Regions from separate parts of the Homo sapiens genome. Here all the other regions are reported to be linked to region 1. The links are microRNA targets in miRTarBase. Many come from high-throughput screens and were not tested one by one. Region 1 holds a microRNA gene; each other region holds the end of a gene's coding sequence.
What was found. The annotated mature microRNA hsa-miR-6800-3p reads CACCUCUCCUGGCAUCGCCCC and lies in region 1 at 4,663-4,683, shown strand. An mRNA with a match to its seed (bases 2 to 7 or 8) in the 3' UTR can be bound and repressed. Matches are read on the target gene's strand: a 7mer-m8 pairs with bases 2 to 8, a 7mer-A1 pairs with bases 2 to 7 and ends in A, and an 8mer does both.

Region 2: miRTarBase lists MAPKBP1 as a target of hsa-miR-6800-3p. Seed matches in the 3' UTR shown: 8mer at 5,110-5,117 and 7mer-m8 at 4,979-4,985.
Region 3: the mRNA of PSMA5 is a reported target of hsa-miR-6800-3p. Seed matches in the 3' UTR shown: 7mer-m8 at 6,652-6,658 and 7mer-A1 at 6,845-6,851.

The regions. Positions count from the first base shown.
Region 1 is chr19:49,827,414-49,837,641 of GRCh38, forward strand. MIR6800 (microRNA 6800) reads left to right here and starts at 4,605; the gene lies at 4,605-4,686. It overlaps MED25 (mediator complex subunit 25), which reads left to right. Exons shown (of 18, transcript NM_030973.4): 4 at 1,036-1,134; 5 at 1,557-1,677; 6 at 2,373-2,535; 7 at 2,675-2,805; 8 at 3,098-3,185; 9 at 3,281-3,474; 10 at 3,920-4,048; 11 at 4,523-4,608; 12 at 4,687-4,744; 13 at 4,895-5,002; 14 at 7,573-7,764; 15 at 8,121-8,192; 16 at 8,314-8,532; 17 at 8,813-8,993; 1 more. The coding sequence ends at 9,531. RefSeq lists enhancers at 7,146-7,646, 7,647-8,147.
Region 2 is chr15:41,822,725-41,830,821 of GRCh38, reverse strand. MAPKBP1 (mitogen-activated protein kinase binding protein 1) reads right to left here. Exons shown (of 31, transcript NM_014994.3): 28 at 7,600-7,883; 29 at 6,761-7,375; 30 at 6,253-6,338; 31 at 2,967-5,613. The coding sequence ends at 5,386. JMJD7-PLA2G4B (JMJD7-PLA2G4B readthrough) reads right to left here and starts at 2,730. Exons shown (of 25, transcript NM_005090.4): 1 at 2,634-2,730. The coding sequence starts at 2,697. It overlaps JMJD7 (jumonji domain containing 7), which reads right to left and starts at 2,730. Exons shown (of 8, transcript NM_001114632.2): 1 at 2,634-2,730. The coding sequence starts at 2,697. RefSeq lists a silencer at 2,753-2,842 and enhancers at 2,577-2,871, 2,903-3,132, 4,178-5,060.
Region 3 is chr1:109,396,688-109,406,915 of GRCh38, reverse strand. It overlaps PSMA5 (proteasome 20S subunit alpha 5), which reads left to right. Exons shown (of 9, transcript NM_002790.4): 9 at 4,826-7,874. The coding sequence ends at 4,903. It overlaps SORT1 (sortilin 1), which reads left to right and starts at 8,998. Exons shown (of 20, transcript NM_002959.7): 1 at 8,998-9,329. The coding sequence starts at 9,024. RefSeq lists an enhancer at 7,864-8,845 and silencers at 8,872-9,001, 9,042-9,111, 9,122-9,221.

The sequences.
Region 1 (10,228 bases):
TCCAGGTGGTAGGGCCAGGCTGTCTCTGAAATCTTACAGGGGAAGGGCCCTTCTGCCTTTCCTGGTGCCTGCTGAGGCTGCATCACCCGTCCTCACATGGCCTCTCCCTGTGTCTCTCTGTGTCCTTGTGTCTTCCCTCTGTGTGTGTGTCCGTGTCCACGTTTCTCCTTTTCACAGACACCAGCCATAGTGGATTAGGGCCCGCAATTTAACTCGATTACCTGTGTAAAGATCTTTCCAAATTAGGTCACCTTCTGAGGTACTGGGGCTTAGGACCTCAACCTGTCTTTTTGAAGGGGGCACACTTGAACCCATAAGACTAGGAGGACAGAGGAGGCCCCCGTCTCTGGCTGGGAAGGTGAAGTGGGGCCAGGACTGATTTGGAGCAGACAGCCCAGAGAGGGGAGGGGACAGCAGGAGGCTGGGCATGGAGTCAGTCACTCCAGGGTTGGAGTCAGCACAGGATCCTAGGCTTGGGGTCCCCAGCCCTTTCCCATTCCCTCCCAGTCCTCATGATTAAAGACAACAAATGTCGGCCGGGTGTGGTGGCTCACTCCTGCAATCCCAGCACTTTGGGAGGCTGAGGCAAGTGGATCATGAGGTCAGGAGATGGAGACCATCCTGGCTAACATGGTGAAATCCCGTCTCTACTAAAAATACAAAAAATTAGCCAGGTGTGGTGGCAGGCACCTGTAGTCCCAGCTACTCGGGAGACTGAGGCAGGAGAATGGCATGAACCCAGGAAGCGGAGCTTGCAGTGAACTGAGATCATGCCACTGCATTCCAGCCTGGGCGACAGAGCGAGACTCCATCTCAAAAAAAAAAAAAAACACAGACAGCAAATGTCCCCTGTCCTGTCTGGGACTGGTGCTGTGCTAGCACCAGGGATTGGGTAGGGAACTCAGCAGGGTCCCCGTCATCCCAAGGTGCATAGCCCAGGATAGAGTGGGGGACAGCATGGGAGCAGGCTCTTCAAGCATAGCCTGGGGATGGGGATGATGGCAACCCTGGGGGCTGACCGCTCTGCCCCTGCAGGTTCATGGGCGGGGGTGGTGAGAGCTGCAGCCTCATCGCGGAAGGACTCAGCACAGCCTTGCAGCTGTTTGATGACTTCAAGAAGATGCGCGAGCAGATGTGAGTGCCCCCTCCACCCAGGCCGGGCCGGTCTCTCTCTGCCTGGCCTGGAACCACTTTGCCTGTCGAGTGGTTCTACCTCCAGCCTCACCCTGTAGGGCATGGGCTCTGTGTCCCCAAGCACGCTGAGCCAGGAGGCTGCAGGTGTGTCCTTGGGGGACGCCTGGCCAGTGCCCGGTCTCAGCATCCCCATCAGGAAGCAGTGCCAACTCTGGGTGTCACTCCTGCCTGCCCTGCCTGCTGGGTGACGTAGAGCACATCCCAGAACCTCTTGGAGCCTCAGTGTTCTCAGCTGTAAAGTAGGGGCGTTGCTTCTGATTCCATGTGAGGCGGAATATGTGCATCTCCGCTGGTGCTGGGTCTGGGTTCCTTCTCAGGGCCTCTGTTGCTGCTGGCTCCATGTCTTCTCTCTTTCCTGGTAGTGGCCAGACGCACCGGGTCTGCCTCCTCATCTGCAACTCACCCCCATACTTGTTGCCTGCTGTTGAGAGCACCACGTACTCTGGATGCACAACTGAGAATCTTGTGCAGCAGATTGGGGAGGTGAGGACTCCAGGGTCTGAGGGACGAGGGTCTGGGGGCCCGGAGTCTTGGGTCTGAGGCAGGAGGCACTGAGGGCCTGGACTCCTGGGTCTGAGGGAGGAGGCACTGGGGGCCTGGACTCTTGGGTCTAAGCGGGGAGGCACTGGGGGCCTGGACTCAGACACAGAATAGTCACAGACTGGTGACCAGCTTTGCTTACTCTCTTTTCGAAACAGTCTGGCTCTGTTACCCAGGCTGGAGTGCAGTGGTGTGATCTTGGCCCACTGCAGCCTCTGCCTCCAGGGTTCAAGCAATTCTCATGTTTCAGCCTCCCGAGTAGCTGGGATTATAGACGCCCGCCACCACGCCCAGCTGATTTTTGTATCTTTAGTAGAGATGAGGTTTCACCATGTTGGCCAGACTGCTCTCAAACTCCTGGCCTCATGTGATCTGCCTGACTCGGTCTCACAAAATCCTGGGATTACAGACGTGAGCCTCCACACCTGGCCCACTTAGTCTTACTGACAAAACTAGAACCCAGAGTCTCCCGGGGCAGGTGATACCTGGTTTCAGGGTCTCCTGCCTCAAAGCCCAATGGGAATTGTGGTTGTAGGGCTGGTGCCGTCCAGCCACACAGCAGTTGTGGTAGGTTGGGGGCCGGCCCCAACACCCTTATGGAGGGGGCCCGTCATGACTGCTCGGCCCCTCTCCTACAGCGGGGGATCCACTTCTCCATTGTGTCTCCCCGGAAGCTGCCTGCGCTTCGGCTTCTGTTTGAGAAGGCAGCCCCCCCGGCCTTGCTGGAGCCGCTGCAGCCTCCGACAGATGTGAGCCAGGACCCGAGGCACATGGTGCTGGTTCGGGGACTCGTGCTGCCTGGTGAGGCCTGGGCACCGTGCGCGGGGATGGGGGCTCGACGTGTTTCCCCAGCTCCCTCTGACTTGGATTTTGGATTTCTCTCCTTTCTCTGCATCTTGAATCCCTTCTCTCTGGGGTTGGCCATCCCTCCTGCTCTCAGTTGGGGGTGGCTCAGCCCCAGGCCCCCTCCAGTCAAAGCAGCCAGTCCCCCTGCCTCCCGCCGCACCCTCAGGTGCCACTCTCTCAGCAGCCCCCCAGCAGCCTCTGCCCCCCGTCCCCCCGCAGTACCAGGTATGGATATTTCCGGGAAGGGACATGCTTCTGGGGACTTGCTGGAGCCCTGGCCCCTGGGGAGAAATCTAGTTGCATGTTGGAGCTTGTGGGATGATGGGAGTCCCATGGGACATTGGGAAGGTGGGACTCTTGGGGCCATGGAAGCTCATGTGCTGTGTGATGGGTGTTGTGAGCTAAGCTATCCCAGCTGGTGCCTCATGGGGCCATGGGTGGTGTGACCTCGTGGGATACCAGGACTGGGGGGCCATGGTCCTCACCAGTCCCTTCCCTTCTTCCCTTCTACCCACAGGTTCCCGGGAACCTGAGTGCAGCTCAGGTGGCCGCGCAGAATGCAGTGGAGGCTGCCAAGAACCAGAAGGCTGGGCTGGGCCCTCGCTGTGAGTCCTGGAGTGAGGATGAAGGGCGGGCAGGGGCCAGGCAGGCCTCTCTCCACACACTTGTTCCCCACTTCTTCCCTTGGTCTCTCCCACAGTCTCGCCCATCACCCCTCTCCAACAAGCTGCTCCCGGAGTGGGTCCCCCCTTCAGCCAGGCCCCAGCTCCCCAACTACCCCCAGGACCCCCTGGCGCCCCCAAGCCACCACCTGCTTCCCAGCCCAGTCTGGTCTCCACTGTGGCCCCTGGCTCCGGCCTGGCTCCCACGGCACAGCCCGGGGCACCGTCCATGGTAGGTGCCTGCACGCCTCCTGCCCCTGCTCCTTCCTCCTGCTGTCCACAGCTAGGACAGTTAGAGGATGAGTCATTTGCCTTCCAGGGGGATGTGGCTCTCGTGGTTCTGGGGCTTTGGGGGCTCGTGGTGTGTGTGCTGCAGATGCCTGAGATGAGGGTCTGGGGACAGAGTGGGGAGGCTCATGGCTCCAGGAGGGTCAGGGCTGTTCCGAGAAACCCAAGGAATCCCTGGGTCTGGGAGTCCAGGGCATCGCACAGCTTACGAGTCCTCGAATCCTGCAAGGTCCAAGCATTTGGGGTCCTGCGGCTGGCCAAGTGCTGTTCTGGGGATGGAGGGGCAGAAGAAGGGATCTTTCCTCCTTCCTGGTTTGCCCTCACAGGATGGCCCCCGGAGGCTCCCGGCCTTCCCCATTCTCATGGCCCTCCTTCCTCCCCTCTGGCAGGCAGGCACTGTGGCCCCAGGAGGGGTGAGCGGCCCTTCCCCAGCCCAGCTGGGAGCCCCAGCCCTCGGTGGGCAGCAGTCAGTCTCCAATAAGCTTCTGGCCTGGAGCGGGGTCCTGGAGTGGCAAGAGGTGAGGGGCCTGAGGGTCCATTGGGCACTTGGGACTCCTGGGGCCGTGGGGCTGGGCATGTAGGACTCATGGGGCCAGATGCGTGGGGTCTGCAGTGCTGGGTTTGGAGGCATTCGTTGCGCTGGACCTGTGGGATGCGGGGCGAGGCCAGGAGCCCCATGGAGTGGTGGGACTTGCGGTACAGAGGAGAGTCCCCATGCAAAGAACCCAGAAAAGCCCAGGATTTGGGGCCCAGAGAAGAGCCCAGGCGATGTATCATCTGGGGCACAGTGGATGGTGGGATTTAGGGGCCGGGCACGTAGCTGTAACATTTGAGGAACTGAAGGCTTGCTGGTCTGGAGGAGGGGCCTGGGGCTCATGGGACTTAAACTGGGGAACATCCTGAGCTTTGGGGCTACCAGGGTAGGACATGAGGGCTCAAGGGGACTGAGGCTTATGGCCCTTTTTACTGACATGCTCTTTTTTCCCCCTCAGAAACCCAAACCTGCCTCAGTGGATGCCAACACCAAGCTGACGCGGTCACTGCCCTGCCAGGTCTACGTGAATCATGGCGAGAACCTGTAGGTGACAGTCAGGGGCGGGGTGTGGTGGGGCTGGGGCTGGCCCCCTCCTCACACCTCTCCTGGCATCGCCCCCAGGAAGACGGAGCAGTGGCCCCAGAAGCTGATCATGCAGCTCATCCCCCAGCAGCTGCTGGTGAGTGGCGGTGGAGGGCCAGCCCTGCTGCCGGGCAGTCCTCACCCTGCTGTCTCTTTCCTGTTCCCTGCCCCACCCCCACTCCCTGCCTCATGTCCCCGCCTCACTTGCCCACACCAGCATGCCAGCCGACTTCTGTGTCTCCCGCAGACCACCCTGGGCCCTTTGTTCCGGAACTCAAGGATGGTCCAGTTCCATTTCACCAACAAGGACCTGGAGTCTCTCAAAGGCCTCTACCGCATCATGGGCAACGGCTTCGTGAGTCCAGGGCATGGGGGGCCGAGGGGTGTTGACTCTTGTCCTGCTTTCTGCTGACCTTTGACGGGAATCCCAGAGTGCCTGGGCCCACGGAAGCCGTTTTTGATGGTTGGGTGCACTTCATGCCCTTAGGTTCCTCGCCTTTCTTCTAGAGCCGTGACTTTTATTATAATCATCGTATGCACCAGATTTGAGGGATATTCCACATTAAAAATGTGAGCTGGATGTGACAGGATCAGTTAGGAGGAAGCTGTTGATTCTGGCATGGCTTTATGGGATGTGTTCATTTCCTGTGGCTGTGGTAACACATTACCACAAGCAGAGGGGCTTAAAACAACAGAAACGTGTTCTATCCCAGTTCTGGAGGCCAGAAGCCCAAGGTCAGGGTGTCAGCAGGGCCACGCTCTCTCTAGAGGCTGGAGGGAAGGCCTCTTCGTTGCCTCTTCCGGCCGGTAACCCCAGGCTTCAGGTGGCATCGCTCCAGGGTCTTCCTCCATCCCGCAGCTGTCTTCCCTCTGTGTGTGTCTCCACATGGCATTCTCTCTGTATCTTTGTGTCTGTGCTTATAAGGACATCAGTAATTTTGGATTAGGCCCCATTTTCCTGACCTCATCTTACTACAATTGCAAAGACCCTCTTTCCAGATAGAGTCACCTTCACAGGTGCTGGGGACTGGAACCTCAGCTTAGCTTTCTGGTTTTGTTTTTTGAGACAGAGTTTCACTGTTGTCAGCCAGGCTGGAGTGCAGTGGTGCAATCTTGGCTCACAGCAACTTCCGTCTCCTGGGTTCAAGCGATTCTCCTGCCTCAGCCTCCCAAGTAGCTGGGATTACAGGCATGTGCCACTATGCCCAGCTAATTTCTGTATTTTTTAGTAGAGACAGGGTTTCACCATGTTGGCCAGGTTGGTCTCGAACTTCTGACCTCAAGTGATCTGCCTGCCTCGGCCTCCCAAAGTGCTAGGATTACCGGTGTGAGCCACCGCGCCCAGCCTCAGCATAGCTTTCTGGGAGTCACAGTTCACACTTTGTAACTCGGGGAAGGAGCAGATCAGTTACTTCCGTGCACCAGGCACTCCTGCAGGAAAGAGAACCTTAGGGGGATCACCTCACGAGACCCTCACAGAACCTTGTGAAGAAGGCATTCCTGAGAGTTAGTACTTCCGGCTGCAAATCACGTAGTTTCCCAAACACATAGATAATTGGGGGCACTCGGAAAAAATGTTCTCTTATGATTCTGTGGGTCACCTGGGCTCAGTGGGCCATCTCGCTTGGCGACTCTCACGGGGTTGCCATCAGATGGCAGCTGAGACTCTGGTCATCTGAAACCTTTACTGGGCTGGATGTTCAAAACAGCTCCTCACACAGCCCTGGCTGTTGGCTGGGGCTTGGCTAGGACCGGCCATCCCAGTGTCTGCACATGGCCTGTCCACGTGGCCACACTGTGGCAGCTGGGTTCTGAGAGGGCAGGCGTTGTAGGAGCAGGCATTTATATTTTGCACAGGACAGGACATCTAGAGGGGGCCAGCTATTGGGATTGGTTTCATAGGTCTGTGACATCAGGGACAGGGCCCTGTGGTTCTCTTGGCCTCTCCTTTATAGTCACAAGGTAGCTCTCATGGCTCCACGCATCCTGTGTGCTTTCATGAAGGAGGGGAAGGGGGCTGTGTGTTTCCCTTTCTTCAAGACAGCAGAAACTTTCTCAGATTCCAGAGCAGGCATTCCTTTCACCTCCTATCCCGGACCTAGGCCACTGGGCAGCCCCTAGTTGATGGGAGGCTGCTGGGAGCAGGTATCCGTGACTGTCTGGGGCTGGGACATGTTACAGCCCCAGACAGCATTGGGAATGCAGGGGAGGAGGACACTTGGATATGGAATAGGCAGCTAGCAGGGTCTGTCTCAGGCAGGAAACCGAGGCTCAGAGAAGTCAATTCACTTGGCCAAGGTCAGCCTCGCCTCCCTCAGGAGCCCCTGCCCTGAATGCTCCATGTGTTACCCCCCTGATGACCAGTGATGTTTCCTGGGTGCTTCCTGTGGGCTGAGCCTCAGGCAGGGCTCTTGCTGTGGATCAGACATCGCATAGTCACAGCGACCCTGTGATGTGGGAGCACTCCCCGTGGTGTACACTGGCCGGTGCTGAGGGCTGGAGGATCTCTTGGATACCCGGGGTCCGACCCACCGTTGATCACAGGCCTGTGGGTACCACGCTGTGCATCTAGGCCGCTCTCCCGGCCGTGACCCTCAGCCGCCCTCTGAGGAGGCCGCCGTGGCATTTTATGCCCAAGAAACTGGGTCCATGAGGAGCAGGTGGTGGCTGAAGGTTGAAGAGCTGGGCTCCAGCACTTTCTCTCCGCTTTCCCTCTCAGTGGGCAGCTGGAACCCTAGCTTGCCCTGAGCGCCTCAGTTTCTGTCTCCAGAGCAACCCATAGCACACCTGTTCTCCTTAACCTTCTATAGCAGAAACCTCACCTCACCTTGCCTGTGGGGCCTCTAGAGCCTTCTGGAATGGGGAGGGGGTCAGGGCTGCCTCTTTCAGGGCCTGAATGGTTCTGAAGAGCTGTTGTCCACCCAGGCGGGCTGCGTGCACTTCCCCCACACGGCGCCCTGTGAGGTGCGCGTGCTCATGCTCCTGTACTCGTCCAAGAAGAAGATCTTCATGGGCCTCATCCCCTACGACCAGAGCGGCTTCGTCAACGGCATCCGGCAGGTCATCACCAACCACAAGCAGGTCCAGCAGCAGAAGCTGGAGCAGCAGCAGCGAGGAGTGAGTGTTGACAGTCCCCAAACCAGCACTCCGACCCCCTCCTGCCCGGGCCCCACATGGCCCCCTGGGGTCTCCAGGACCAAGATGCCCACCCTTCTCCCAATATGTGGTGCCTCCAAGCTAAGTCCCACTCAGATTTTCTTGCAGTCTCTCTCCTTTTTCAGCATCCACATCAAAGCCCTGACACAGCTTCCTCCTGGAGACCTTGGAGTGTACGGCATCCCTCCCAGACCACTCACCCCCAAAGAGAATGTCCCCATCTCCTTACTAGTTCCCCTCAGGGCACAGGCCCTCCCGCCTCAGATTCAGGATGCCACCACCCTCAGTTACTGACCTGCCCCTCTCTCCCCGTGCAGATGGGGGGACAGCAGGCACCCCCAGGGCTGGGGCCCATTCTGGAGGACCAAGCCAGGCCCTCACAGAATCTGGTGAGGACAGGGCTGGCGGGGTCGGGGCTGGGTTGGGGAGGCCCCAAGGCTGCGCTCTGTGCCTGCAGAAGGGGCGTGAGGCCCTGCCCATCTCCCTCACCCCTGTGTCTCTTCCCACCAGCTCCAGCTCCGCCCACCGCAGCCCCAGCCTCAGGGTACCGTAGGGGCCTCTGGGGCCACGGGGCAGCCCCAGCCCCAAGGTACTGCCCAGCCCCCGCCAGGTGCCCCTCAAGGCCCTCCTGGAGCAGCTTCTGGCCCACCCCCTCCTGGACCCATCCTTCGGCCCCAGAACCCTGGGGCCAACCCTCAGCTGCGAAGCCTCCTCCTCAACCCACCACCGGTGAGATGTTGGGGTGGGGTAGCGAGAGTTCCAGATCCTGGCCCTGGTGGTTCTGGTCCTGTTGTCTGGGAGGAGGGAGGTTGACTGTGGTCAGTGGGTGTGAATGGGGACCCGCCCAGGGCTTTAGGCAGAAGGCAGACCGCCTCCTCTCCGTCCATCCCCCACCTTTGAAGAAAAACTTCCCCTCACCACTAGCTGATTCCATCTCTGAGCAGTGTCTGTGTTGAGAGGTGGGGAGTCTCTACCAGGAGCCTCTGAGCCACTCTCTGTGTTCTCCCAGCCGCAGACTGGGGTGCCCCCACCCCAGGCCTCCCTCCACCACCTCCAGCCACCAGGGGCTCCTGCGCTGCTGCCTCCGCCGCACCAGGGCCTGGGGCAGCCCCAGTTGGGGCCCCCACTCCTGCATCCACCACCTGCCCAGTCCTGGCCCGCACAACTTCCCCCTCGGGCTCCACTGCCAGGTAAGGGGACCCGGGGGAGGGCAGAGGTCTGGACTGAGTGTCCCAGCAGCTCCTGGGCTAGAGCACCAAGACCGAGTGCTCCTGGGAAGTAAAGACATAGGATCCAAGAATGAGGGTTCCCCCATGGCCTTTGCGGAGCTCTGAGGGCTCCGGGAAAGTACAGCCCATGGGTCCAAGGACCTAGTGGGTTAAGAGCGTTTCCCATGATCCTCCTGTGTGTGCTCCTGGGATTGCTGGGAAATGTGGTCTTAGGGCCAGAGAAGTAGTTTTGGAGAAGGGCCCCCAAAGGCTCATGGGAAACAGCATATTTGTAACTAGATGGGGCCAGAAGGTGCTTCTGTTGGGTCCCCCAAGGGCTGCCTAGAAAACTTAGTGCCTCTGGGCCCTCCTGGGCCCAAGGGCCTACTGGGAGATGCAGTCCCTTCCCCACTGCCCCTCAGGTCAGATGCTGCTGAGCGGGGGTCCCCGGGGCCCGGTCCCCCAGCCGGGCCTGCAGCCCAGCGTCATGGAGGACGACATCCTCATGGATCTCATCTGAATCCCCAACACCCAATAAAGTTCCTTTTTAACACACGCCCCGGCTCCCGTCACTGACATCCCTCAGGACTGGGCAGGAGGAAACCCCAGGGGGCATCTCTGTCCTTGTTCTCACTTCAGCAGACATCCCTGGGGCCCTGGGTGAATGACGCTGGGGCCTCCGTGGTGAGTCACAGGCAGTCTGGTGCAACCTGATTCGTGGGAGATGCAGGGACAGGCAGGCAGCGCTCAGGACTCAAGCTCTCATGGAGGTGGCAGGGGCACCATGGGAGCCTGGAAGAGGCATCTGACCCAGCCCCAGCTCCTCAGAGTCTTGAAAGAGAATCAGCCGTCAGGCTGGGAGGGAAGGAGGTGAGGGGTGATCTGGGTGCAGAGGACAACAGAAACTTTGAATACTCAAAGGCAGGAGGAAGCCTGAGACATTGAGAGGAGCAAGTTGATGGATGCTTTTGGAGCATGAGCATGTAGGGAGCTAGAGAGATGGGCAGGTGCAGAGTTTGAGGAGCTCGGATTCCAAACTGAGCAGCCCATGGTTTGTCCTGGGGACACAGGAGAACCAGGAGGCTTTGAGCAGTGGGGCGGGCCTAGGCCAGCTCTGGATGTCAGAAAGACCCCTCTCAGCTGTAGAGCGTGATGAGGCCAGACAGGAGGCCAGGAAAGGTGAGGCTGGGTGGTGGCGGTGTCGGGGGCTGGGGTAG
Region 2 (8,097 bases), not on the chromosome of region 1:
AGGGGGCTGGTGTGTCAGCACTGCAATAGCACCCAGGCTCGGCCTCAACTTTGCTCCATGATCTGATCAGGTGCTGACAGTGGGGAGAAGCCAGACAGCAGGATCAGGCACTTCCAAGCCTGCGGCAGCAGGAAGGGGCCTTCCTGGGTCCCCAAAAGTGCAGACATGCCTGGGTCCACAGCTGCAGCTTGGGAGGCTGCAGCTGCATCTAGGAGGGTGGGGCTCCTGCCTGCTCCTAGCTCCCAAGAGCACAGGGGTGCCTGAGTTGCAGTCCTGGCTTGGGTGGCTGTAATTGCGCCTAGGGAGCTCCCACTCCACCAACTTGGAAGGGGTGGGGCTCCCACTTGTCCCCAGTTCCCGCCAGCTCTGTGGAACATGTGGCCCCAGCTGCCTCTCCTCTTCACGTTTTCCCCACAGCGGCGGCGGGCAAGGTGCATATGGCATGGCAGCTCTGACCACCCCAAACAAATGAGCCTAGTAGTCCTGTGTTCCGGAAACAGTGAAGAAGCCAGTTTGCAGGAGCAGGGTCTTTGTGCACATGTGTGAGTATTTTTGTACTCACAAGTGCAAGTCCCTACAAGTCCCAGTTGCACCTTTGGCAGGGTGCTCGCAGGCTTCTGGGATGTGGCAGGGAGCGAGGTTCAGGCTGCAGCAGAGGGTCTGGGCTGAGGAGCAGGTCCTGCCCAGCCATGTGAGGGTGGGGGTGGTGCAGTCGGCTGCCTCGGGGATGCAGGGAACAGGGGACTCACTACCACCACTGCTGCTCCCAGAGCCACTTCTGCTGCCCGACTTGTGCCTCCCCACTGCAGCCAGCATGATGACAGCATCTGCTTCCAACTGCCCGCCACTGTCATCAAAACTGCTGGACTCAAACAATCCTCTTGCCTCAGGAGGTGGGACTACAGGCACATGCCACCACACGATGGTGTCTCACTATGTTGCCCACGCTGGTCTTGAACTCCTGGCCTCAAGAGATGCCTCCCACCTTGGTCTCCTGAAGTGCTAGGATTACAGGCGTGAGTACTGCACACAGCCTGGGATTCTGAAAATACATGGAAACTGCCATTTTTTCACCCTTTGGACTTCTGCAATTAGGGATTTGTTTTACTTGCTCACCATTTCCTTTAGAGAATGGCTGCTTTCCTCTCCTGGGGCTTCCAAGTGAGAAAATTTCAAAAGGGATCCAAACAATTGCTTTGACCCCATAACTCTGCTAAGAATTTAACAAGGCCGGGAGCAGTGGCTTATGTGTTCCATGGCGTTCCAAAACTTTGGAATGCTGAGGTGGAAGGATTGTTTGAGGAATCTGAGACCAGCCTTGTCTCTACTAAAATTCAAAAAAATTAGCCAGGCGTGGTGGCGCATGCCTGTAGTCTCAGCTACTCCCAGGTGCTGAAGCAGGAGGATCTCTTGAACCTGGGAGGTCGAGGTGCAGCGAGCTATGATCGTGCCACTGCACTCCAGCCTGTGTGACAGAGTAAGACCCTGTCTCAAAAAATATAAAGTATTTAACCAACAAACATACTCACACATGCGCAGAAGACGCTGCTCCTGCAGACTGGCTTCTTCACTGTTTCCTAAACACATCAGGCATACTCCCAAAGAGGGCTTTGCCTGCACTTACCTTCTAACCTACTTCTTCTACTCTACAATGTACTCATTCAGTACACCTGTGGTTGATTGTCCACGTTCTCACTTAGAATGTAACAGGACATAGACTGTAAAAGACAGATTTGTTTTGTTCAGTGATGTATCTCAAACACACTGAACAGAGCCTGGCACACAGAGATGCTGAATAAGTATTTGTTAAATCAATCCTCAAAGTATTCGTTGCAGCATTATTGAAAACAACGGATTGGACATGACCTAAATGACTAAGTGAATACAGCACTAGCACACAGACGTGAAAAAGACTGAGGTAGAGGAATGTGAAATGATCTCCAAGATACACGGTGCAGAAGAGTGTGTTTAGCAGGCTACTATTTGTACAAAAAAAGGGTAAAAAGTCGTGTGTGCACGGATATAAACAATCTTTCTGTAAGAATGCAAACTGGGGCTGGGAGGAAACCTTGCTTCATTTACATTGCGTACCACTGTATATTACATACCCATCACATACACATGAGCCTGTGTTGCTGTTCAGTGGTAAGAAATCATTTAAAAATAGAAAAAAGAAGGAAGGAGGGAAGAGAGAAAGAAAGAAAAGGAATAAAAACCAAGCAGGGGAAGAGCCAGGGACCATTTGGTCAGCCTGCAATCCTCCCAAAGTGCGACAAGGGAGTTGAGGTCGGAGGTGGGGCGCGTGGGGGAGGAATCCGACCACCAGCTGTGTGCCTTCGATGAGCTTTCAACAAGGGTAACAGCAAGCTGCTCAAGACTGTAGGAAACACAGGGCTTCGCCGCGACCACGGTCAAGACGGCACCGGGCCTTGGGAACAACGTGAACAGAATCACCCAGGAAGCCGCGGGAGCGCGCGAACACGGGAGAAGGGAAGCAGGTTGCCACAGAAGAGCAACCCGAGCGGGGCCTCAGGGCAGTCGCACACACGAGGTTCCGAGCCCCCGGTGTCAGCGGCATCCCAGGGCCCCTCCCGTGTTCGGAAATCGCCGCAGCCTGTGGGAGAGCCACTCACCCCTTGCAGCGGCCGGGAATTCTCGTAACTCGCTCCGCACGGCTTCCAAAGCCGCCTCCGCCATGGCTGCGTCAGCGCCGGCCGAGACCCCGCCTTTCCCCGACGCCCCGCCGCAGGCCACACCCCAAGCACTCGCCCCGCCCTCCCCAGAGTCCCCGCCGCAGGCCACACCCCCAGACCCTCGCCCCGCCCTTCCAGAGGCACCCGCCGCAGGCCACACCCCCAGCACCCCGCCCCGTCCTGCCCCTGGACACACACCGGGTTCTGCCACCGAAGCGGTGGAGCGACTGGCAGCGCCCGCTTCGGCCTGCCCCACTGGCCGGCATCCCAGGGTTAACAAACAATTGTGTTTATTGACAAGTTCATACATCAGTACAAACGGGCACGTTAAAAACAGCGCCCCCGCCCCATGCAGCCGAGGATGAGGCAGGAAGCGCCGCGACCTGCACAAAGTATAAAAGTTATAAATAAGGGGCTTTCAAAACAAGGCGGGGGCAAATCTGGAGTGGGGCGGCGGTTGCCGGTGGCCTCAGACATGCAGAAGGGGACGGGGCGCCGGCCGGGCCACGAGGCCCCCCACCCACATGGGGCAGAGGGCAGGAAAAGGGCGGCCACATTCTCACAAACTTCTGGCGAAGGGTAGCTCCCTCCTCGTGAAGGACCTGGCCCAGAGGGCGAACCTGAGTCCCACCTGCGGTGGGCGCGGCTGGTGTGGGAAGTCGGGGCACAGCAGGCACGGGCCCGCCCCCGCCGCCGCGGGAGTTCCAGGGCCATGCGGGTGGCGATGCTAGAGGAGTGGGGAAGGGCCAGGTTTGGAGCAGCTCAAGCGCACTCAGGCTGATGCCCCGGAGCTGGGAACCTTTTGTAACCCTTTTTCTTTTTTTTTTTTGAGATGGCGTGTAGCTTTGTCACCTAGGTTGGAGTGCAATGGCGCGATCTCGGCTCACTGCAACCTCCACCTCCACCTCCAGGGTTCAAGCGATTCTCCTGCCTAAACCTCCCGAGTAGCTGGGATTACAGGCGCCCACCACCACGCCCAGCTAATTTTTTTATTTTTAGTAGACAGGGTTTCACCATGTTGGCCAGGCTGATCTCGAACTCCTAACCTCAGGTGATCCACCCGCCTCGGCCTCCCAAAGTGCTGGGATTACAGGCTTGAGCCACCACACCTGGCCCAGAACCCATTTCTTTATAAGCCTCTGCCTATGGCGCAGCAGGGCGGGTGAAGGGGCTCTCGTGGCCTGAAGCTGTGGTAAAGCTGCTCTGACTTACCTGCAGCAGAGGGGAGCAGTAGGGCCCAGAAAAACCTTTCCTCAACTCTTCAACTGCCTCACGACATGGTCCCACTCTACCTCCTAGGGTCCCCTATCTCCTTTCCCTCACCCCTAATTACTGCCCTTTTACATTCTAACTTATCCCCTCACCTCTGCCACTTACCTGTCCCATCTACCACTTTTCTAGTGTCTCCTTTGGCCCCAGCACCTCCCTCCTCTCAAACTCCAGTATCCAGCACACCCGTGGGTGCCCAGCACTGCCTTTGAGGAGGCTCCTTCTACCTAAACCAGGTGTCCTATGGGCTATCTCGTATCAGCTAGGCTGTGGACACCAAGAATCCAGAATCTGGGTTCACTTAGTGTACTGCACCCCTTTTCTGCTCCCTGATAGGTGTTCCACATAAGCCAGGGTGGTGAAGCTGAGGCAGGATGTGAGGAAACCAGGCACACAGCAGCCAGCCAGATACTCTAGCAACCAACACTCAACAGCGTGCTGTGCAGGTAGGTGTGTGTGTGTACATGTGTGCACGTGCATGCGTGTGATCTCATCTGTGGCTGAGGTCCTCAGGAGGTAGGCCAGCGCCCCGTAAACGAGGGATGTTCCAACACAGGCTTCTGACTAAGCATCATTCAGGATGCAGGGAGAAGGTGGCCTCTGGGCTCCAGCAGCCGGCTGGGGTCCAGGGTGGAGGACAGGGAAGAACAAGGGGCTGAGGAAAGGAGGCCAGAGCTTCATGTTTGCCCAGGTGAGGGCTTACTGTCCTGCAGCAACATCCCACAGCTGGCTCAAGTTCTGGCCAGGAGAGTAAGGGGTCACAGGGAAATACAATGCTGGGCCCCTCTTGGAGGGAGAATGGGAGTGGAATGTGCGGGCTCAGGTCCAAATACCAACTCAAGTCTCCTGATGGCTGGGGACACCCTGGAGGGCCAGATGGCTCTGCCTTTCTGAGCTCCAGGTATTGGGGAAAACCACCCTGCTCTGGCAGCCACGGGAGTGCAGCTGGTGTGAGAGGGGAAGTGCAGGTAGAGGTGAAGGCCCACAGTTGGCTGACGGGCACTGAATACCACATCACCTCTCACCTCGACCCCAGAGTACCCTGTGTATGCTCCACCACAGGGAGCTAATCCCTGCAGTAATTTCAAATGGCTTCTAAGAGAGGGCCAGCCCTTCCCAGATTCCTAGATGGGGCAGGCTGCCCTCCTACCTCTCACAGCACCAAGATGACAAAGACCCAAGACCTGTCCCTGCCACTGGAGGGGCTGTGGAGGCAGGAGTTCCAAGGAAGTGAGGCAACAGTCAGGGAAATAAATTAATAAATACAGGCCCCCCACGAGGAGCGGCTGGGAAGGCTGCTTTGCCTCTGAACACTGCTCCCTGCTTTCCACTCCAAGCAGCCCCGCAGGTTTTGGTGAGGGGCAGAGGGGCTGCAGTTTGGAATCGCTGGAGCATTCATTCACTTGGGACAGGCTTCCAGAACTCAGAGTTTGCGTTCCATACGCCGTTCCACGGCTCGAAGCAACAGTTCTGAGTATTGCTCCAGCAGGGCCTGTGTCTGCTCGGCTCCCACAGCCCCAGGGCTGCTGCCTGGGCTGGACAGCACTGCCCCAGCCACAGCTTCCAGCTCCTGTCGCACTGAAGAGAAGGTGTCTCTGAGGAGCTGGGCAATCCGACTTTGCTCTGCTGAGGGCATCTTGCAGCCAGCCACCTGAAATAGCACCCCCAGAAGTGAGGTGGAGGAGCCTGTCAACAGACATATAAAAGGGAGGGGCCCCACCTGGGTCCAGCCTGCCTCAGAAGGGACTAGCTGGGAACTCTACCCGCCAAGATCAGCATGTATGGCCAGGGAACATGGGATGCAGGCAGACTCTGGGGGTGACGCCCAAGGAGGAACCCATTGGATTGCAGAACCGTCTACATCTTATAAGCAACTCCTTATGACAACTCCGGCAGAATCTGCTTTCTCTTTCAAAGTTTGGGCCTTCTTGGACTGTCCCCTATGTCTAAGGGGGCCAAATAATTCATGGATATGAAAAAGGATGCCATTAATAATTACACTGGGACAACGACATAAACTGGGATTGTCCTGAGCCAACTAGGAGGTGTGGTCTCTTCAGGCCTCACCTCCTGAGGGAAGTCTCCAGCTCTTAACCAGAAATGACCGCAGGTGCCCGGTACAAGAGGCTAGCCTGGCCTCTAACCCCCTCACCTATGCTGCCCAAGATGTTCTTGAGTGTGCCATCCTGTCAGCACAAGAGGCTTAGCATACTGTTCTGGACATGGTTATCCGAAACACCCAGCACTACTGACGTGCCCGCCTTCCTGCCGGGGGGCACCTAACACCCACCGAGTGGTAGAGCCGCACTGCCTGGCGCACGCTGCCGCGGAGCTCTGCCACCAGCTGCTCACACTGCTCCAGGCTCACCGCTGGCTCTGAAAGAGACGGATACAGCTCAGTGAGGCCCAGCATGTAGCCCTTTCAGGCCTCCGCACCCAAGACACTCAGAACAGGAGAGACCTAGCCCTCAGCATTGCACCCCCCACTTGCCCTCAGTCCCTTCCTCTTGGCTTCTCTTCCAACGGCCTCCCCAACACCACACAAACAAGGTCCAGAGGAGACGGCCAGCCCCAAGTTCAGAAGCCACTGAATGGGCAAGTGAGTCACAAGGAAATCATGAAGGTTAGCAGGAGGGTCTCACCATCAGGGGTGTGACTTACGGACCTGCGACAGGAGCAGACAGGACAAGAAACACCAGAAGCTGTACCCACAGAAATGGGATGGAGCCAGACAGCGGCCAACAGAGAGGGGAGAGTAAGGATGGGGCAGGAGATGAGAGCTGGGGAGCTGTGCACACCTGAGTCCTGGCTCAGGGCTGCCCCTGGCTTGGTGCATTCCATGGGGTTGGGAGTCTTCTCAGGGGGTGGGGGCTGCAAGTTTTCAGGGCCTTGGAAGAGGCTGCTGACTGGCAGTTGCTGGGCACAGGGGCTGCTGGGCCCAGGATGAGCCTGGCACTCTGTCCTAGGCTTGGGAGTGGTGCCCTCCCCCAAACAGGCCCATCTCTCAGTTGTACTGTGAGCTTTTCCTAGGCCCACCGGGAAGCCAGGCTTTTCTGCCTCGCCAGGGGCCCGGCCTTTGGTGACAGGAGAGAATGCAGCCAGGGTAGGACGGTCAGGCAGTGGTTTGGGGATGTCCAGGACCAGGTGAGCCCGGCTGGGCAGGGCCAGCTTGCTGAGTGGTGAGACTCGGATGGGGGCATGAGCTTGAGGTTCAGCCACCAGGCCCAGGTTCTCCCCAACAGAGATACTGCGGGATATCTTGGCCATGGAACTGGTGGTGGGGTTCTGATAGGAGTGAGGCCGAGACGGACGGCCATCAGCTGGGGGCAGGGAGCCCAGACCATCCTGAGCTTCGATCTCCCGAGACAGCAGTGCGCCTGGTGAAGGGGCCTGCAGACTGGCCTCATGTCTTTCTGCAAAGGAGACAGAGGTATACACAGGTCAGGTGTTGAGGAAGGCATCCCAGGTGCCAACACCCAATCCCGAAGAGCTGCTGTTCCCCTCCACATGCCCATTAAGGGACACCTAGTGGCCAGCACAGTGGCACATCAGGGCCACACCAGGCCCTCCCTCCTCCAGCATGTACATGTGTTCCATACACCCTGCACCCTGGCACTGAACCCATCAGGCTTCTCACCCTGTGGCACCAGACTGTGCACAGACTGGGCCTTCTGGAGTCCAGAAAAGGGGCTGGCTGTGGCCACTCTCTTGGGAGCCCAGCTGCTGTCAGGGTTGAGACGGCATCGTGGCAACAGCACAGAGGCTGCCTGCTGGGGGCTGGGGTTGCCAGAGGACGGTTCCACCTCCGGGGGTGCTCCAGGGGGATTGGCACCATTGCCTCTCGGCTGCTCACCAGATGCCTGTGGCACCTGGGCTGGTCTCGACATCAGTGCCAGGCTTGAGGAGGATGGGGATGGTTCCCTACAGGGAGAACATGTGGGAGAAGGCCCAGAGAAGGCTCAATGCTCCTCCCTGCCAAAATGGCGAGAAACTCATAGCACCAGGGCACTAGGAGAGAACAAGCACAAAGCCAGATAGGGCTGGGGAAAGGCCAGTTAGCCCAAAACTGGGAGTGCAAAACACCCCGCGCATGGAGAGACAGAACACTGGAGAGGAGAGGGCAGCAGCCCTGGGA
Region 3 (10,228 bases), not on the chromosome of region 1:
CTTTCAATGAACTTTTTTGAGATATAATTTATATACAGTAAAATGTACCTATTTTAAGTTTACAATTCAGCGGATGTTGACAAATGTACAACCCCCAGTATCTGTCACCCCAGTCATTATATTGATCCTCCCAAAAAGTTCTCTCATGTCCCTTTGTAGTCTCTTCCCCCACATTGATCTACTTTTTGTCACTATAGATTTGTTTTGTGTTCTAGAATTTCATATAAATGTTTTTGTTTGTTTTTTTAAGAGATGAGGTCTGGCTGTATTGCCTAGACTGGTCTTGAACTCATGAGCTCAAGTAGTCCTCCCACCCCAGCCTCTCGAGTAGCTGGGACTACAGGTGCACACACCATGCCTGGCTAATGTTTTTTAATTTTTTTAGAGATGGGGTCTTGCTGTGTTGCCCAGACTGGTCTTAAACTCCTGGCCTCAGGCAGTTCTCCTGCCTCAGCCTCCTGAGTAATTGGGACTATAGGTGATTATAGGGACTATACTTCTTTCACTTGGCATGATTTTGAGATTCACCTGTGTTGCATCAATTCTGTTACATTTCATTGCTGAGTGCTATCTCATCCATCCTATTTTTTCACCTTTATTGCCAAGTCTCCTCCAAACAGAACCTGTATTATCTCCACTGCTTCACCTCTCATTTACTCCTCAATCACTACTATTTGTTTCAGCTTTTATTATTTCCATGAGACTGCTCCTTGCTAAGATAACTCTTATTTGTCAGATTTCATGGTCACTCTTTGGAACTATCATTTGACTTTTTTGAAGGATTCACCTCAGATTTGACAGTTCTAAAATTAAAATCATTATCTTTCCTAAAAACCATTTCATCTTCCCATATTTCTAATCTTGGTTGATGACACCCCCAGGGTACTTGTCATTCACACGAGAAACCTGGAAGACTTTGACTTTCCTTCCCTTTTACTCAGTCATTTCTTTGCTCCCTTATAAATAACTCCCAAATCCATGTCCCTTCTCCATCCCTACTTCCAGTGCCGCCTTTTGTTCAGGTTCCCATTTTTCCCCTACCTTGTATATTTTCAGAGGCTTCCTAATTAATCTTGCCCTCCTCCATTTCAGTCCATTTTTTCCTCATTGTGCTACTATAGTGGATTTTCTAAGCTATATCTAATCTTAATGGTTCTCCACTTAAAAAATATTTTCTGGCTGGACATGTGGCTCACACCTGTAATCCCAGCACTTTGGTAAGCCAAGATGGGTGGATCACTTGAGGCCAGGAGTTCAAGACCAGCCAGGCCAATATGGTGAAACCCCTGTCTCTAATAAAAATACAAGAAATTAGCTAAGCACGGTGACATGTGCCTGTAATCCCAGGTACTTGGGAGGCTGAGGCATGAGAATTGCTTGAACCCAGGAGGCGGAGGTTGCAGTGAGCTGGAATCACGCCACTGCACTCCAGAGCGAGACTCTGTCTCAAAAAAAAAAAAAAAAAAAACCTTTTCTGACTTCTATTGTCTGTGAGATAAATTCCAAAATTCTTTTCATGGCATAATTCACTACTTCTTAAGTCATTTGTTTAATCTATTAGAGACTTTGCTAAGCATTTTACATGCAATTACATCTCTTAATCTTCACAACACTTCTATGAGATAGATATTCCTATTCCGAAAATCTTATTTTACAGAAGAGGAAACTGGCTTTGAGACGGTAGGGCCAACAGGTAAATGGTAGAGTCAGGATTTGAATCCAGGTCTGGTCTTAGGTCTTATACTTTTAACCACTTTAACGTACTGTCTCCCATGAGCTCTGACCCCCTACTCCCTCTCCTTTTCACGTCATATTCCATGTGCAAGCTGTGGTCTAGCCATACAGAATTACTTTCAGTTTTGCAAATATGTCGTGTTCTTTTGTGGTTCTGTGCATTTGCACATTGTTTGCCCTTCCTGTCTTTGACTGTCTGACCCATTCTTGCCATGCTTTAATACACAACTCAAAAGTTGCTTCTCCCTGAAGCCTTCCTGGGCTCCTCCAGATCACTCTTAAACATATTCTTAGTTCTATTACAACACTTACCTGACATTGAACACATTTGGCATCTAGCACTTAGTAAATAAAGACTTTCTTCATCTTTGGATCCTTAGTCACAAGTACATGTAACTAATACACAGGTGCTTAGTAATTAATTATTGGTGAAATAAATTGAAAGAAAATATCTGTTCTACCTGCCTCATAGAGATGTTTTTTGAAAGTGAGATAATAAATAGAAAAGTATCTTTCATATTATGCAAATACATTTATTATTATGCAAATGTAAGGGATTATTTTTACTTATCTAGTGATGAGCAACTTCCTGAAGGCAGTCCTTGGCTCAGACGCTATTATTAATAGTATTGATTTGCGTTCCAGTTCTTCTGTAGGACTGTTCCACTCAGAGTTTTCCCAGTTTCTGCTTTTTAGCCCCTGTAATGTTTTGAGAAGGCTAGCCTGAGTCATGAGTGAAATTCTTTAGGCCCTCACTCTTTAGATTATTGCTCTTATATTTCTCTGTCCTCATGTCATTGATCATCAAGTAAAGATATATCTTAAGAGAAGCAGTAGTAACATTTTTATTTATTTATTTATTTATTTATTTGAGACAGGATCTCACTTTGTTGCCTGGGCTAAGTGCAGTGGTGCGATCTCAGCTCACTGCAACCTCCACATCCCATGTTCGAGCAATTCTTGTGCCTCAGCTGGGCCTACAGGCGTGTGCCACCATGCCCGACTAATTATTGTATTTTTAGTAGAGACAGGGTTTTGCCATGTTCACCAGGCTGGTCTCGAACTCCTGACCTCAAGTGATCTGCCTGCCCCAGCCTCCCAAAGTGCCATAATTGAAGGAATTACAGGCTACCACGCCTGGCCAAGAGAAGCAGTAATAATATTTGTATGTTTAAATATCCTTGGAATGGAACTCATGGTCTACATGGTAAACTAATTGTTTACCTATATTTTGCAGATATATTTGGGACTTTTCTGACATTTCATGTAATTAGAGATATATCTTTTAGGAGAATCTAGAGGAGACTACAAGCTTTGAGAGGAGAACTTTTTTTTTAAGTCTGTTCCCAGATATCAGATGTCTTAAGACTTGCAGCAGTCTTTCTGAATTTTACTTATAGATGAGGCAGAGGATACTAAACATCATATAACTGGATTATGCTGATTCTCTCTAGCAACTTTCAAGTTACATTAAATATTAGTACTGAAAATTACTTTAAAATGCCCTACTATATTTAATTTTAAAAAATTATTATTAATTAATTTATTGTTTTAGACAGAGCCTCTTTCTGTCACCCAGGCTGGAGTGCAGTGGGATGATCACAACTCACTGCAGCCACAACCTCCCAGGGTTAAGCAATTCTCCCACCTCAGCCTCCTGAGTACGTGGGACACAGGCGTTTGCTACACCCCCTGCTAGTTTTTGGGGTTTTTTTTTTTTGGTAGACACGGGGTCTCCCTGTGTTGTCCAGGCTGGTTTTTGACTCTCGGGCTCAAGTGATCCTCCCGCCTCAGTCTCCCAAAGTGCTGGGGTTACAAGCATGAGCTACTGTTTCCAGCCATGTGTTTAATTTTAAAAATTGAAGAAAAAAGACACTATGAGGAAATGACATGTAAAACACAAATCTTTTGAGGCAAATGTGAAGTGGCACCTATTGCTCAGTATTGCCCAAAACTGTGGGACATGATCAACAGAGAGAATGGAAAACCTAGTCATGATAGTTAAATTTGAAATTAACCATCTTCTGACCCTAGTTTTTTATTGTTGTTGTTGCTTTTAAATGTAAATATAATCTGGATTTCCAGTTATTACTGATATCTTCAGCAGTCACAACTGGTTTCCTATGCCAGTGTTAATGAAATCTTTTCTTGGCCAGTTCTTTTAAAAAAACGTAACAGGCCAGGTGCAGTAGCTCACATCTGTAATCCTAGCACTTTGGGAAGCTGAGGTGGGCAGATCACCTGAGGTTGGGAGTTCGAGACCAGCCTGACCAACATGGAGAATCGCCGTCTCTACTAAAAATACAAAATTAGCCGGGTGTGGTGGCGCATGTCTGTAATCCCAGCTACTCGAGAGGCTGAGGCAGGAGAATCGCTTGAACCCGGGAGGCGGAGGTTGCGGTGAGCCTAGATCACGCCATTGCACTCCAGCCTGAACAACAAGAGCGAAACTCCATCTCAAAACAAAACCAAAAACAAACAAAAAAAACTTTTTTGTTAAGTTTTGCCACATAAACAATTTTAGAGAAAATACCTGACAATAGTTAATGATTATTTGTTGTAGGCAATAATGGTCTAAGCACTTTATATATATTAACATTTAATCCTCACAACTACTCTATGAATTAGCTATTCTTATTGTCCTCATTGTACAGATGAAGAAATAGAGGCACAGAGTGGCCAAGTAACCTCAAGTCACACACACAAGCTCAACTTTTAAGTATTTAAATATACTTCAAATATATTTCTAAAGGAGTCTTTAACAGAAAAAAGTACTGACTCCATGTACTTTGCTGCTGCTTTTGTGATCCCTGTTGAAGTGACTTCAAGAAGTGACAATGATGCCAGGCATTTGGTTAAGTATGATGTGGTGAGTTAACCTTAAAATAGAAAATTTGGTCAATAAGCATTTTTATTTTGGAGCCAGAGAGCTATTTTAGGGACCTGCTGCCTGGAAAGGATATCCTTGGGACAGCAGATCCCTTAGTTCCTAATGAATAGCTGCATCACCAACACAGCTTCTCCTGACCATGGTAGGGCCATCAGCAGGGTAACTCAGCCCAGCTTATTAACCCTTCTGTTTTCTTTCCAGCTAGCCACAGTGCAGCCTGGCCAGAATTTCCACATGTTCACAAAGGAAGAACTTGAAGAGGTTATCAAGGACATTTAAGGAATCCTGATCCTCAGAACTTCTCTGGGACAATTTCAGTTCTAATAATGTCCTTAAATTTTATTTCCAGCTCCTGTTCCTTGGAAAATCTCCATTGTATGTGCATTTTTTAAATGATGTCTGTACATAAAGGCAGTTCTGAAATAAAGAAAATTTTAAAATATTTGTTAATAGACTGTTCTCTTCTAATAGTCTTTTTTTTTTTTTTTTTTTTAAGAGATGAGGTCTCACTATATTGCCCAGGCTGGTTTCAAACTCCTGGGTTCAAGTGATCTTCCCGCCTCTGCCTCCTGAAGTGCTAGGATTATAGGCGAGAGCCACTGTGCCCAGCCATTGTAATACAGTCTTTTGTTTGAAATGCAAATGTTAGTGGGCCAAAAGGACAGTGTTATTAATATCCCTATTCTATGAAGATGTCTGTTCTAAAACTGTTTTAGTGATGCTCTATAACAGAATCAACTATATCCATTAATCCCATGGTGTTGATAAATGAACTAGTCCAGCTCTTCCCAGTGGTTAATAGATGTTAACAGCACTGTAAATCCATTTCGGCCCTATAATTTCTGGAGCAAACGTGTATTTTTGCTGCTTTTCTTATAAGGAGATGCTACTAATTGACTATCAGAAGAACATGTTTTGAGGTCCTCCTCAAAACATTGATGGGTTGGAATCAGCCATCAACAGTGTTGTACCAGTTCTTGGGTCTTGATAGACAATTTGGAAAGAGATTTCCTTGTTTACGAAGTGAAGGACTAAGAATTAAATTAATGACCTTGGCCTCACTGGCAATCAATTACAAATCTCTATATCAGTAAGAGAATTGTAAAATTCAGAAGCAGTTTACATTAGACTTTGGAATGAATGATGAACTTTCCCCATTAGAGCTGCCATCATATGATTGGTGGAGATTGTTTAAAGAATCATTCTATCTCAGCCTCAAAAATTACCACGGGAAGATGGTATCAGTATCACTACTTAACAGATGAAGAATCTAATGCTGTGTGCCCATGGACACACAAAATTAAGCTGTTGGGACTTGAACAGCTCAAATTTTCTTGTTTCAGATCACCAGCTCTTGAGTAATAGGGAAATCTGGAGATTTGAAAAGTACTTGCACTGTCCACAACATGGCTAATCCATATGTGGATGATGCAGAATTGATTTAATTCACTAACAGGGACCCCATAATTATTTGCTGGGCTCTGGGTATATTGATGTGTAGGAAGTTGTACTATATGTTAATAAATTATGACTATTTGGATAGGCTGAATTCATACTAAATCCATACTGTAGTTCAACAAAAAACAACATGTTTATATACATTTGGAAACTGCAATGATAGGAAACATTTGGAAGAAAGGGATTTTGCCCTAGAATAACACATAAGGAAAGCAGAGAATTAGAGTATATTGTTACTGAATGTTCCAGAGACTTCTAGTGATTTTAACACTTATTAAGTATAGCATGTTGATGGGGAGATTTGTTTCTCTAAAGATCACTTTGTTTTATTAAATCCTAATAGAAAATACCCTTGAAAATCCTATCTCATTTATTCCTGTAACAAATTTATTGAGCACCTACCTACTATATGCCAAGAAATGTATTAGCCATCAGGCAGAGAGCTGTTCAAATGGTAGATATGATCTGTGCTCCTGTGAAACTTCTAGTGGGGAGAGCCAAACAATAAACAATATTCCTTTTTAACTCTAGGTTAATGCAGAAATGGATAAAGCCCATGTTGCTTTTGGGAGAGGTGAGTTGTGTCTCTGAATCACATGCATTTCATAGGGGGAAAAATGCCCAAATACTAAGGAGTAGCTCTTAGCCTATGTCCGTTCGCCTCAGCTTAAGTTGTTTTCCCTCCCACTGGCTGGGCAGCATATTTGTGTTTTACCTGGTAAAACAGTAAATTTCGTACCTTCTATAATTGGCATTCTTCAAAGAGGTAGAACTTTGATTTTTTTGTAGAATATTAAAACAAGCTTTCTTAGGTTAAAGAAGTGATCTTACTACGAACAGCAATGGTTTCATGATGTGTAATTGCTTTATGTTATCTTTCTGCTATAGAATGTTTCCTGGAGAAAGGTACGGTTTTTAGTAATAAGATAAATTTACTTTAGTCCTGCAAATAAGGTGAAATCTTATGTCCAGTATCTCACAAAGGAGAACTGACAGTGCCACTTTTATATTTAATGTCAATCTCATTAGACAAAAATGAAATATAGTTCCTAGGGTTTCCAATTTAAAAAGTGAAATAATAAATATATTCACTCAAACATTTTCTCAGTGCCATATGCAAGTTACCATGTCCCAGAAGCTGATACAGTTTGAAGAAGGAAATATATAAGTACTGTAAGCCTGTGATAACTAAAAGCAACATACTAAAAAGTGAAGGTACAGATAATTGGAACAAATTTAATAGCGTTTAAAAGTGTATTTGGTAATTTCTCCAGGAGGTGGCACTGTTGAGTTGTTTTTTCTTTTCAGACAGTAAGACAATAGACCATTCATCTTTGTGTCACCCAAACAAAGAAATATTCCTTTATAACCCCCTTTCCTCCCCCCACCTAATCACATGCTACTGGAACTGACTGTCTTGTGATCTACTCCCATAGTTGGCATAGATTTAAAAATAATCTTTTTTAAATTAATCTGATAGTAGTTATGGAAAGGAACAAATTGTTCACCAATTTTCATCAGCTTTATCTTTTCAGTCCAGTAACTGAGAACTTAAAAAGACTATTCTAGTGATTTTACTATCCTGCTCAGATGGCATTCAAAAACATTTTTCACTTCTCACGTCTTGGAAAAATTTGTAAATTCGTTAAGTCTTTTTGTTTGAAAGTTAATGTGACTGGAAATATTTTAATGTAAATATCGGGTTGGGTGCATTGTATCATTTTGCTCTACAATGACTATATCCTCATTTGGGTTTATGGCCAGTTTATAATTAAAAGTAATCTTTACTTGCTTTGAGTGTAATGACTTGCATATTTTGTATCTTTCTATTTGCTACCTTTTCTACTGAACAATTTCTAGCTTTCTGAAGGGATGGAGTCAGTAAGCTTAAGGATTCAGAACTGGTTTTACCTGTGCTACGTGTTGTAGAAGTTGTGTGTGCAGCTTCTGCGGTAAAGGGAACAGCGTAGGGGTTTTATTTTATTCATTAGAGGTGGATCGGGGTGCTAATTTAGAGGACATCACATACTGGAACCAAACTTGTCCGAAGCTCTCACTGCAGAGTTAAGGCACTTTGGTAAAATAAATGTGCATCTAGGAAATGATCATGTGTACAGTAGGCATTGGATCATTCTCTTGCCCCTCTTTTACCTGCCCCTAATGCCTAAGCTACATTCGAAGTCCTGGAAAACCTGTAAGTAATTCCGCCTTTGGCCTACCTCCCCTCAGAAGAGGAAGGTGAGAGAGGCCAAACGTATGGAAAGACTATTCTTCAGGCTTGCAGGAGTCACGGATGTCCTGATGTCTGTCTCCGTAGGATGTGGCCCACATCAGTTCGCATTCACCTTCTTGCAGCAAGGCAGCTGCTTAGCAGACAATGGGCGCTCCAGTGAGCGGGGTTTATAAAAACCCGAAGCCCCGGTTCATGATGGAGCCCCCTTTTCCAGCTGAGCAAGCTCAGGGATTTCCTGGGTAGGTTTTTCCAGGCTCTGCCTCACCGAAGGAATTTTAGGAGTGTCTCTGGGGAACAGGAGGGACGTAACCCAGCCCCAACTTGAGGGCGCTAGAGGTGCGGCAAGGGGTCGCGACGCCAGGAGCCCGGGGCTCGGCGGGAAGGTATGAGAAGCTCCTACGTGAACTCCACAAGCCGGGCCCGGGAGACGCCGGGCGAGGCGGGGTTGACCTCAGCAGTCTCTGCCCCGTTCCAGCCAATCAGTCCCGCATCTTAGCATCCGAATCCAGGACCCCCGAAGCCGGAGGCGACGCGAGCCAATGAGGAGTGGGCCGGGGAAGAGGGACAGGCGGCCAGCCTATGGGGCGGAGAGGCCCGGCCGCGCGTATCCAAGGAGCGCCGCGCTCGGCTCGGGGGTGTGGCGCGCGCCGGCGGGGGTGGGCGGGCGCGCCGGGCGGCAGGTGTCGGCGTCGGCGGCATTCGGCGGCGATGGAGCGGCCCTGGGGAGCTGCGGACGGCCTCTCGCGCTGGCCCCATGGCCTCGGCCTCCTCCTCCTCCTGCAGCTGCTGCCGCCGTCGACCCTCAGCCAGGACCGGCTGGACGCGCCGCCGCCGCCCGCTGCGCCGCTGCCGCGCTGGTCTGGCCCCATCGGGGTGAGCTGGGGGCTGCGGGCGGCCGCAGCCGGGGGCGCGTTTCCCCGCGGCGGCCGTTGGCGTCGCAGCGCGCCGGGCGAGGACGAGGAGTGCGGCCGGGTCCGGGACTTCGTCGCCAAGCTGGCCAACAACACGCACCAGGTGAGCGGGCGCCGGGCCCGGGAGCCGCTCGGGTGCGAGGTGCCGCCCGCGTGCCCCTCCCGGCCCGTGCGCCCCGCGACTCCCGGAGGAGACCCCAGCCCTGCCGCGCCCGCGTCCCCCGGGCCGCAGCCCCGAAACTGCGGCGGGCGGGCGGGCGGAGTCGGGCCCGGGCGGCCGGCGGGGCTGTGTTTTGTCATAGGGGAGGCAATCTTAGACTTCCACCGCATTCTTTTTTTTTTTTTTAAGTTGTCAAAATCTCTTGAACATCGTTTTTCGTCTGTATAAATAATCAGGACCCAGTAACGCTGTTAGGCCCCAGGAAGGTGAAGGAGTAATTAACTCTTGAGCGCTTGCAGAAGTTGGGCTGCGCAGAAGCAAAGGTGTGTCCTCTCTGGGTCAGTACTTTCCGGGTGGGAGAGGCGGGAGTTCAGGAGGCCCGAAGCAGCGATCTGGTCACCGTGTTTTAATAGTTAAGGGGACTAGCTTGGAAATGAGATGGCAATATTTATGTGATCTCTTTTACTGCTTCAGATTTGACCTTCTGTCATGGTACGGAAGTCTGACTAGCATGTCTATATCCCGTGGTGACAAGATTTTCAATAGTTAAGAAACGCATTGCACATATTCTGCTTTGAGCCAGCTCTTGGTCAAAAGACTTTCAAAATTATGGGATTTCTGTCCCTGGGGACAAGCAGCTCAACCTTTGCACACTACTGGACTGACAAAACTAATTATTAAGAAAGTCCTGGTTCCTTGCTTCAGCACAACTTGGGCATCTTTCTCCTATTTCTCTAAAATTAACAATTTAATCCTTGCTAGCCACATTTGCATAATGTATTTTCAATTCTATATATTTTCTCCCTTGCCTGTTTTCCTCTTTCAAAGAAAATGAATTGCAC